Linked DNA regions of Homo sapiens: region 2 is linked to region 1. Evidence: fine-mapped expression QTL. Tissue or cell type: tibial nerve. Region 1 holds a variant in brackets; the other region holds the start of a gene. All regions are shown on one strand. Distances are from middle to middle.

Region 1 (5,000 bases):
GCAGGACATGGACGTGGACATCCTGGCCCTGGTCAATGACACCGTGGGGACCATGATGACCTGTGCCTATGACGACCCCTACTGCGAAGTTGGTGTCATCATCGGTAACTCAATTGGACTGGTTTTTTGAGGGTAGGGGAGAAGGGACTGTTTGGGAGTTTCATTTCAGCGAGCTCTGAGTGAATTCGGCGGGAAGGGCACTGCACTATTTAGGAGAAGCAACATAGGGACATGAAAAATTCATTCATTCATCCATTCGACAAGTGTTTACTGAGCACCCATTGTGTGCCGGCCCCTGGGCTTGGCACTGGGTTTGGAGTGGGGAGTTCCTGTGCTCCTGGAACTTTCAGTGGGGAGGTGGGTGAGAGGCCCAGAAGGCCTAGGCTATTAAGATAATTTCAGGTGGTGGTTAGCGTGATAAAAAAACAAAAAACAAAAAACAAAGAGAGTGATGTGACTGTGAGTGGGATGAGGCGTCAGGGAAGCCTCTCTGAGGGGTGGCATTTGAGCCGGGACCTCAGTGATGCAAACCAGGGAGCAAGGTGGAGGCCCGAGGGTAGGGAGTCCCTGCCAAAGGAAAGAGGACACCTACAGGCTTGGAGATGGGAAGGGGTCCAGGGAGGGGGCACTGGGGGAACCCTATAGCCGAGTGGTGTCCGGATGAGGTGAGTGAAGGCTGAGAGTCGGAGGCCATTCAAGTGAGAGGCAGAGGACAGACTGGGCAGATTGCACAGGATGTGCACACAGTCACTGTAAGGTCACCGGCTTATCCCCTGAGGGAGACTGGAAGGCACTGGGGGACTCTGGGTGGGGGATGGATAAATGGATGCGCATTTTATTTTATTTTTTTATTTGAGACGGAGTCTTGCTCTGTCGTCCAGGCTGGAGTGCAGTGGCACAGTCTTGGCTTACTGCAACCTCTGCCTCCCAGGCTCAAGCAATTCTCCTGCCTCAGCCTCCTGAGTAGCTGGGATTACAGGTGCCCACCACCACGGCTGGCCAATTTTTTGTATTTTTAGTACAGATGGGGTTTCACAGTGTTTGCCAGGCTGCTCTCAAGCTCCTGACCTCAAGTGATTCACCCGCCTTGGTCTCCCAAAGTGCTGGGATTACAGCCATGAGCCACCACGCCCGGCCGGATGTGCATTTTTTAAAAGCCCATTTTGGCTGCTGTGTGGATAATAGATTACTGGGGACAAGAGTGGAAGCAGGGTGACCATCCAAGAGACCACTGGACTGTCAGGCAAGGTGCACTGCAGCTGTGGACCAGAGAGGTCGTGGTGCAGTGGGGGTTTCCAGTGGGTGGTCTCCACACCAGAGCGAGGGGGTCAGCTGGAGGAATGTGTGGGAAGGCAGTTTGGGGTACAGTAAAGCTGAATGGCTCTGACTTATAGGTTGTTCTTGAATATCCCCTTCTCCTTTTCCCATTCCTTTACCACTCCTGGGGAAAGTTCTTCTGAATTGCTTTTTCTTAATGTCCCTCAAGACCCTCCTCAGCCTGGCTTTCCCAAAGGGCAGGTTTTTAAACCTGAGGGGCTCCCTCCACCCTTCTGTTTCCAGGAGCCTCAGAATGGTTCAGGCCCTTGCCAGTCATGGCACCCGCCTGTCACTGTGGCTGCGTCTGGTAACCACAGATTGGGGGGGCCACGCCTAAACAGTGTCCGTGCATTTCTGAGAAAAGCTTTTTCCAAATATTACATTCTGCTTTTCTACATTTCTCATTTTCCATGTTGGCATTTAAAATACTCATACCAGAGTATCAGCCAAGGGAAGATACTGAAGAAAAAAAAAAAAAAAAAAAAACCCGAAAATTCAAACAGCTTTATTGAGGCATAAAAGTCCTCCGATTTTAGGTATACGATTCAATGATTTGTAGTAAACGTATAGTTTTGTAACCATCACCACAATCCGATTTTAGAACATTTCTGTCCTCCCAAAAGAGTCCAAAAAGATGGTGCCCACTTGCAGTCATTCCCCAGTGCTCAAGTGTTTGAGGCATTTCCTTGGAGCGATTTTGTGTTTGCATAACGGAATGTTGCTTTCTTAGGTGGTAGCTAATCACAGTCTAAGATAAGGATGCAGCTTATGCTAGAAACAATTTGTGGCAGGCCATAAGTAAAGAATATTTTTAGTATCAAATAGAGAGGAAGCTAAGTAGCTTAAGGAAAGAATTTTCAAAATTACCCTGGGTTGGTGATTTTTTGAAAAAAATATTTACAAGATTATCTTCATT[T/C]GTCCTCTTGTAAGAGCGCTTCGTCAGCTTTCATCCATATTCATCAGCGGACTTCTTCACAATTGACTCCATTCAGAACAGCAAACCCTGAGCACCCTGAGAAGTGCAGACTTGACATGTCAGCTGTTTTCCCCATGTGCTTGGGGCTTGCCCAAGCTGCTTCCCTCAGCGAGAGCCAGCCCCCAGGGAATGAAAAGCACTTTGTGGTACATTGAGGAGGACTCCCCAGCAGTCAAGAGTTCTCTGTCTGTGCCCAGCTGGGAGTCCTCTCTCTGCATATTCTCTCTGATCCCTGGTTCAGGAACTGGCACCAATGCGTGTTACATGGAGGACATGAGCAACATTGACCTGGTGGAGGGCGACGAGGGCAGGATGTGCATCAACACAGAGTGGGGGGCCTTCGGGGACGACGGGGCCCTGGAGGACATTCGCACTGAGTTCGACAGGGAGCTGGACCTCGGCTCTCTCAACCCAGGAAAGCAACTGTGAGTTCCCTTCTGGTGTTATCTGGGCATCGGCACCAGGCAGTGCCTAATCACTCAGGTCCCCTGGCTACCTGGGAGGCTTTCCAGTTGTGACTAGCTATCCATCACAACTTTCTTTCTTTTTTTCTTTTTCCTTTTTTTTTTTTTTTGAGATGGAGTCTCACTCTCTAGCCCAGGCTGAAGTGCGGTGGCACGATCTTGGCTCGCTGCAACCTCCACCTTCCAGGCTCAAGCAATCCTCCCACCTCAGTCTCCAGAGGAGTTGGGACTACGGGCATGGGCCACCATTCCTGGCTAATTTTTGTATTTTTTGTAGAGTCAGGGTTTTGCCATGTTGGCTAGGCTGGTTTTGCACTCCTGAGCTCAGGCAATCCTCCCGCCTCAGCCTCCCAAAGTGCTGGGATTACAGGCATGAGCCACCATGCATGGCCCCATTACAACAAATTTATAAGGCATTGCTTGTATTTCAGTTTCATCTGACAAATGAGGAAATAGAAGCCAAGGACATTGAAAGATTTCCCTAAGTCATAACCCTAATAACCCTAATTCTAATTCAGTCAGTATTTGTGGGTTACGTATGTGCATGATAGGCACTGAAGATAAGAGCACTCGGACGCTTGGCCGCAGAACACACCTGGGCAGTGAGGAGAAGGCAGGCACAGCCGAACTCGTCGTGTTCGCATGTCCCCCAGCCGCCTTGCTTTCTCGGAGGCCTAATCACTCAGCAAGTGGTGACTCTGGCAGGACCTTCCCTCTGTGTTTGCTGTCCACAATTTTTATTTTGATGCTCAAATTGTTTCAGATTTGGCCAAAGGAAGCCTCTGAAGCTGCCTCCTGTGTCCTTTTGACATGTTCCATCACTCTTTAAGTACTTCCTTATTTCCTGGCACCGTAAGACGTTCCCGGCTCATGTCGCACTTTCCTAGCCCCAGCCCTGGAATCAGCCATTTTGTCAAGACATGCTGGTGAATTTCAAGCACCTTCTAGGAGCGATTCAAACACTAGAACTGTGCACCCGGGAAGCACATTCCACTTTGGTGGCACCTACTCCAGGCACATGCCTGTGCTCTAGTGACCCATTGCAGTCATGTCCCAAGGACGTGGTGTCCATTTTTTGAATTTTATCATCTTCACCCATTTCCATTTTACTTAAAATAAATTCTATTCCTTCCAGGCCTGGTGGCTCATGCGTGTAATCCCAGCACTTTGGGAGGCTGAGGTGGGAGGACTGCTTTAGTCCTGGAATTTGAGACCAGCTTGGGCAACATAGTGAGACCAGTCTCTATAAAAATAAAAATTAAAAAAAAAAAATTAGTCAGGTGTGATGGCAGATGCCTGTAGTTCCAACCACTCAGGAGACTGAGGTGGGAGGATCACTTGAGCCAGGGAGGTCCAGGGTGCAGTAAGCTGTGATCATACCATTGCACTCCAGCCTGGGCAACAGAGCAAGACCCTGTCTCAAAAAATATATATATATATTATATTCCCTGACATCCACCCTAAATTTCTTTTGATTGTCTTCTGTTTCTTCAATGCTCAAAGACTTTTTTTTTTGAGATGGAGTCTCACTCTGTCGCCAAGGCTGGAGTGCAGTGGTGCAATCTTGGCTCACTGCAACCTCTGCCTTCTGGGTTCAAGCAATTCCCCTGCCTCAGCCTCCTGAGTAGCTGGGATTACAGGCATGCGCCACCATGCCCGGCTAATTTTTTTGTATTTTTAGTAGAGACAGGGTTTCACCATATTGGCCAGGCTGGTCTCAAACTCTTGACCTTGTGATCCACCCGCCTTGGCCTCCCAAAGTGCTGGGATTACAGGCATGAGTCACTGTACCTGGCCTGTTCTAAGACTTTTTATAGTGAACTATATAAAGTAGATTGTGACATAGATTGTTCTTGATTTTGTGTCTTATTGTGTTTGGAAAATAAGCATTATATTTAGGCCTGATGCGGTGGCTCTTATCTGTAATTCCAGTGCTTCGGGAGGCCAGGGCAGGAGAAACACTGGAGGCCAGGAGTTTATGATAAGCCTAGGCAACATAATTAGATCCTGTCTCTACGAAAATAAAAAAATTAGCCAGGTGTGATGATGCACCCCTATGGGAGGCTGAGGCAGGAGGATCACTTGAGGCCAGGAGTTCGAGGCTGCAGTGAGCTATGATTGCACCACTGCACTTTAGCCTGGGTGACAGAACGAGATCCTGTCTCCAATAATAATAATAATAATAATAATAATAATAATAATAATGTTCAATAGTCTGCCTGGGAAACAATTAGGAATTGTTG
Region 2 (5,520 bases), 23 kb before region 1:
CATTTTTAGTAGAGACAGGGTTTCACCATGTTGGCAAGGCTGGTCTCGAACTCCTGACCTCAGGCAATCTGCCCACCTCCCACCTCAGCCTCCCAAAGTGCTGGGATTACAGGTGTGAGCCACTGCGCCCAGCCCAGGTTACTTTTTAAATGGGGGAATTAAATGCTGGGTGTGGTGATGCAAGCCTGTAGTCCTAGCTACTCAGGAGGCTGAAGCCAGAGGATCACTTGAGCCCAGGAGTTCGAATCCAGCCTGGGCAAGACTGGATGGAGTTCAAATCCAGCCTGGGCAAGACAAGATGTAGTGAGACTCTGTTTCTGAAATAAATCAACTAGTGGGGGAATTAGGATAAATAATGTCATCACTTACGGGCAGATGGCCTTCCCAGGATGTTATCCTCAGCCAATGGGGGCTAGGGCCTAGGATGCGCATTTCAGAATACCAACAATTCCACCTGGTTTGGGGCACTGAATGGTTTGGGGAACTAAAGGTTCATCTTTGTTTGCTTGTGTAATAAAGGAGCAAGCTAAAAGTCATAGTCTGAGGGTAAATTGACTGAAAAGGATGGGGATCCTCAATCTGGGAGACAGTTTTAATATGCTTATATCAATCTGAATAAAGCATCTGGAGTAATTTTAACCGAGCCTCCTCTGCATTGTGGGCTTAAGTGAGACCTGATGGCTCGTCCACACGGCAATGGGTAGAGAGCACTGAATTCCAGCTACTCAGGAGGCTGAGGCAGGAGAATTGCTTTAACCCAGGAGGTGGAGGTTGCAGTGAGTTGAGATTGAGCCACTGTACTCCAGCCTGGGCAACAGAGTGAGACTCTGTCTCAAAAAAAAGAAAAAGAAAAACAAATTCTTAACATCCCAACAGAATGCTGCTACTAATAGTTATCAATTGCGTATCTATTGAGTATCTATTGCGTGGAGAAAGCAGGGCTGGAGAGCCAATGCCATGTATTATAGCTGGGCCCTGGAATCAAACTTCCAGGATTGACCCCTTGCTGTCCTGTTTATGGCTTTGTGATCACGTAACCTTTCTGGGCCTCAATTTTTTCATCTATAAAATAAGAGTGGGCCGGGAGCAGTGGCTCATGCCTGTAATTCCAACACTTTGGGAGGCTGAGGTGGGTAAATCGCTTGAGCCCAGGAATTCAAGACCAGCCAGGGCAACATGGCAAAACCCTATCTCTACAAAAATACAAAAATTAGCTGGGCATGGTGCCACGTGCCTGTAGCCCCAGCTACCCTGGGGATTGAGATGGGAGGATCACCTGAGCCCAGAAGGCTGATGTTGCAGCGAGTCATGATTCCACGACTGCATTCCAGCCTGGGGGATGAATGAGACCCTGTCTAAAAAATAATAATAACAAGAGTAATAAAAACAAAATGGGATTGGTAAATGCTCCATCCATGTTAGCCGCTGTTGTTAACGCTGTTGTTATTGGTTTCATTAGCCAGCCAGTGACTGTGGGAAGAGTGCAAGGTTGATTGTACCCATGTATTGGGTGCTTTCTGGGTCCTTCTCATGTCAAGTATGATGAGTGAGAAGTGAGTGAATAAAACATCTCAGTGGCCTGAGACATTTCTCTTTTTTTTCTTTTTTTGAGATGGAGTTTTGCTCTTGTCACCCAGGCTGGAGTGCAATGGCGCGATCTCGGCTCACTGCAACCTCTGCCTCCCAGGTTCAAGTGATTCTCCTGCCTCAGCCTCCCAAGTAGCTGGGATTACAGGCACCTGCCACCACTCCTGGCTAAGTTTTTTGTATTTTTAGTAGAGATGGGGTTTCACCATGTTGGCCAGGCTGGTCTCGAACTCCTGACCTCATGATCTGCCTGCCTCGGCCTCCCCAAGTGCTGCGATTGTTACAGGCGTGAGTCACTGCACCCGGCTGGACTGAGACATTTCTTATCTGTGACTTCCTTCTCTCCAGCAGTGATTCCCAGTGAGCACTGGTGACTTCAGTTCACTCTTTCTCAGGAATATTTTTTCCTGGGTCACTACCTGTGAACTAAAGATTTTCTGGCTTAACACTGTGAATAGGTAAACATTTATTGATCATTTTCTGTTAACCATGGGCTATTAGTTAAGAGATCTGATCTGTCACAAATGGAAGAATCTGCCCCAACATTCTTGAAATCCCATTGACCAGGACAATGTTTAGTTTTAGTTAGTTCAGTGCTTCTGAGGAGCAGGGGGTCACAGAGTTATGCCACTGGCATAAAAAACTAAAGAGAAAAGCCTGGGACTGGAAATTTGCAGAGCAGCTCCACCGGTTGAAAGTTGGCTTTGTTTAGTGCCCAACTTCGCAGAAGATTTTCCTCGGCTGAGTGGGCTTGGCAGAGCCCCGGCTTGAGAGGGTTGCTTAGCAATGAGATTTGGTGGCACCCAATTCTCAAGTAGTCAAGCAACCCATCAATACCCTGCTTCCCCCTCCACTAAACCTCAGCTACCATCCAGAGCCTCCTATTAGACAATCAAGTGTGTGCCAGAGGGAGGGACCAAAGGGGTGGGGTGGGGGGGAGTTTAATCATTGAACCAAGCAGGCTGGAGGTATTTAGTCCGCAACACCTCGCTCCCCAGGAGGTCTGCCAGCCTGGACTGGAAGCGTGCAACACTCCAGAGTCGTAGGAGTGAACACTGCACAGGAATCTCTGCCCATCTCAGGAGAAACCAAACTTGGGGAAAATGTTTGCGGTCCACTTGATGGCATTTTACTTCAGCAAGCTGAAGGAGGACCAGATCAAGAAGGTAAGGAGGACCCACGAAGCTGAGAGATGCCCAGCTCCTTCTTCACGGACAAAACTGATTCCCTTAAAAAAAAAATCAGAAGGGAGTGAAGAGAGCTTATTAGAAAAGATACTGGGAGCATATGACCAGTAAAAGACTCACTGAGGGAAGAGGGAGTAATTCTCCCACACTCCTGGGCATTGCATTACTGTCCTGAACCTTACACTTCACTCGGAACTTCCTGGCAGGTATTGGATGCGGAAGCGGGTGAGGAGGGTGTTTGGAAAGCTTGAAGAGGATTGTGTTTGCTGTAAGGGATGTTTGCTCGGAAAGGCCACAAAGGCGAGGAGAATCATTTTCAAAGAAGTTTTAAGAACTGTTGGAGCAGAAGGCTGGGCGCAGTGGCTCACGCCTGTAATCCTAGCACTTTAGGAGGCCGAGGTGGGCGGATTACCTGAGGTCAGGAGTTCGAGACCAGCCTGGCCAACATGGTGAAACCCCGTCTCAACTAAAAATACAAAAATTAGCTGGGTGTGGTGGCGGGCACCTGTAATCCCATCTACTCGGGAGGCTGAGGCAGGAGAATCGCTTGAACCCAGGTGGTGGAGGTTGCAGTGAGCCGAGATCGCGCCATTGCACTCCAGCCTAGGGGACAAGAGTGAGACTTCATCTAAAAAAAAAGAACTGTTGGGGCAGATCTGTTTGTTCATGTATTTGAAAGCATATAAATGTGGGCAGCAAGAAGGTGTGAGTTGCAATAGACAGTAATTGAAATATCTATTATTGGCACCTGCTATTTGCCAATGGTACACTATTCATGGTGTGCATTATTTTGTCACTTTGCTCAGGGAACTTGTCTACAAAATTCATTCCAAAGTGGGCTGGTTAAAGGTTGCCAAGGGTCAACAGGAGGGAACCAGGGTTCTTTCCAGGCAGCTAAAATGAGCCCAGTCTGCTACTCTGGCCACACCGGCTGGCTGTCACGGCCCTGGGCAAAAAGCATCTCTCAAAGTGCAGATGACAGAAGTCCTCCTAGCAGGAGGACTTAGCCAAGGTCACCAAGTATTTAGGATGGAATGAGGATTAAATCCAAGTTGGCTGACTCTTCCTTCAATGCTTTCTGCTGTGCCATGACTCCCTCCTGCTTTACAAAATGAATAAGGAGGCCAGGCACCGTGGCTCACGGCTGTAATCTGCATACACTGGGAGGCTGAGATGAGCAGATCTCATCTCAAACTTGAGGTCAGGAGTTTGAGACCAGCCTGGGCAACATGGAGCAACCCCATCTCTACAAAACATGTAAAAATTAGCCGGTCATGGTGGTGTGTGCCTACAGTCCCAACTACTCGGGAGGCTGCGGTGGCAGGATGGCTTGAGCCCGGGAGACTGCGCTACTGCACTCCAGCCTGGGTGACAGAGTGAGACCCTGTCTGAAAAAAAAAGGAAAGAAAAGAAAAAAAAAGGCCAAGGATGGTGGCTCATACCTATAATCCCAGCACTTTGGGAGGCCAAGGTGGGTGGATCACCTGAGGTCAGGAGGTTGAGACCACCCTGGCCAACATGGTGAAACCCCGTCTCTACTAAAAATTTAAAAATTAGCTGGGCGTGGTGGAGTGCGCCTGTAATCCCAACTACTCAGAAGGCTGAGGCAGGAGAATCCCTTGAACCCGGGCAGCAGAGGTTACAGTGAGCCGAGATCATGCCATTGTACTCCAGCCTGGGCAACAGAATGAGACTCCGTCTCAAAACAAAACAAAGAAAGAGAGAGAGGAAGTGTGGCCCCTTACAGCCCTCAGGTACTTGGTGGGATAAACTCCCACTAAATTCTATTCATTTAGAGAGTTGAGTTAGAGGTTGTAGCAAATTTAAAAACATTATAAAGCAATCACTTGTTGATTAGATTCAGAGCCCTCTACTGGCTACTTAAGGAGGCGCTGCCTAGGAATCCACTTTCTTTTGTTATCTGCTTAGTAAAGGCACAAGTTGCACCATGTCTCTCCCACCCCCAAGGGGGAGCCTTTGGAACCCTGAAACCTTTGATTCTGCAAACTTATTTCATTTCCTTGGGCTCCTTTGTGTTGGTTAACCTTTTGTACCCTAGGATCATGCGGGACATGTTTGTCCAACAGCCCTGGTGCAGGCTCAGGAGCACCCTGTGATGGGAAATGCAGCCTCTGCTGATGGGCTCCAGGTCCTTCTGGAAGGACAGTCAGCCTTTTTCAATGCCGGGAGCTGACCTCCCTCTCCCTGTGGGAGGCGAGAAAGTTGGAAGCACTTTTATAGCCACCTTAAGCAAGTGCCCCAGGAAGTCTCTGGGGTAGTGTGGGAGACTGGTTTATGGCTGCTGGGCTGAGTCATGGTTCTGAGAACACTCCTCCCAACACGTGGTGGAAACACACCTGGTCAAAAGGCACAGCTCGTTTCTCTGCGGTCAGGCAGTGAGTCCCCTTCTTCGTCTCTGTGCTTCCTGCCTCTAGAATTGTCCAGATCCTGGGCCAGCGGTGCCTGCAAGGGTTACTACTGAGACCCTGGAACAATTTCTAAAAATCTTCCCATACCAGCATGGAAACAAAAATAAAACAAAATGAAAAAAACGAAAATAGAAACCACTCTGACAGATTCTTTTCCAATTCAATATATTGACATTATTTGACCTATTGATAGCACCAGGCCAGACCTGGTCACTGACCTGCAGATTGTTCATCCACAGGAGAACTGGGAGGTTTTCAGTGTGTATTTTTCATGGCTCTGTATGTCAACATTACAAAAAAGTGGAAATGTTACTTGT

Which allele goes with the higher level. Positions count from the first base shown, and alleles are read on the strand shown. Sizes are in standard deviations (SD) of each study's normalised expression.
For the expression in tibial nerve of the gene that starts at base 2,587 in region 2, T is the high allele of the variant in region 1 and C is the other (moderate effect, 0.61 SD a copy in GTEx).

What was found. PIP is the estimated chance that this variant, and not a neighbour inherited with it, causes the effect.
Region 2: HKDC1 starts here. The variant in region 1 is fine-mapped to the expression of HKDC1 in tibial nerve (GTEx, PIP 0.99).

The regions. Positions count from the first base shown.
Region 1 is chr10:69,240,648-69,245,647 of GRCh38, forward strand. It overlaps HKDC1 (hexokinase domain containing 1), which reads left to right. Exons shown (of 18, transcript NM_025130.4): 6 at 5-104; 7 at 2,535-2,718. Among named protein-coding and RNA genes, the nearest start is that of HKDC1, 23 kb to the left of the region's middle. The variant T/C (reference allele first, on the strand shown) is at 2,234.
Region 2 is chr10:69,217,746-69,223,265 of GRCh38, forward strand. HKDC1 (hexokinase domain containing 1) reads left to right here and starts at 2,587. Exons shown (of 18, transcript NM_025130.4): 1 at 2,587-2,753. The coding sequence starts at 2,691. It overlaps LOC101928994 (a long non-coding RNA gene), which reads right to left. Exons shown (of 5, transcript NR_120648.1): 3 at 5,422-5,480; 4 at 5,132-5,280. RefSeq lists an enhancer at 444-613.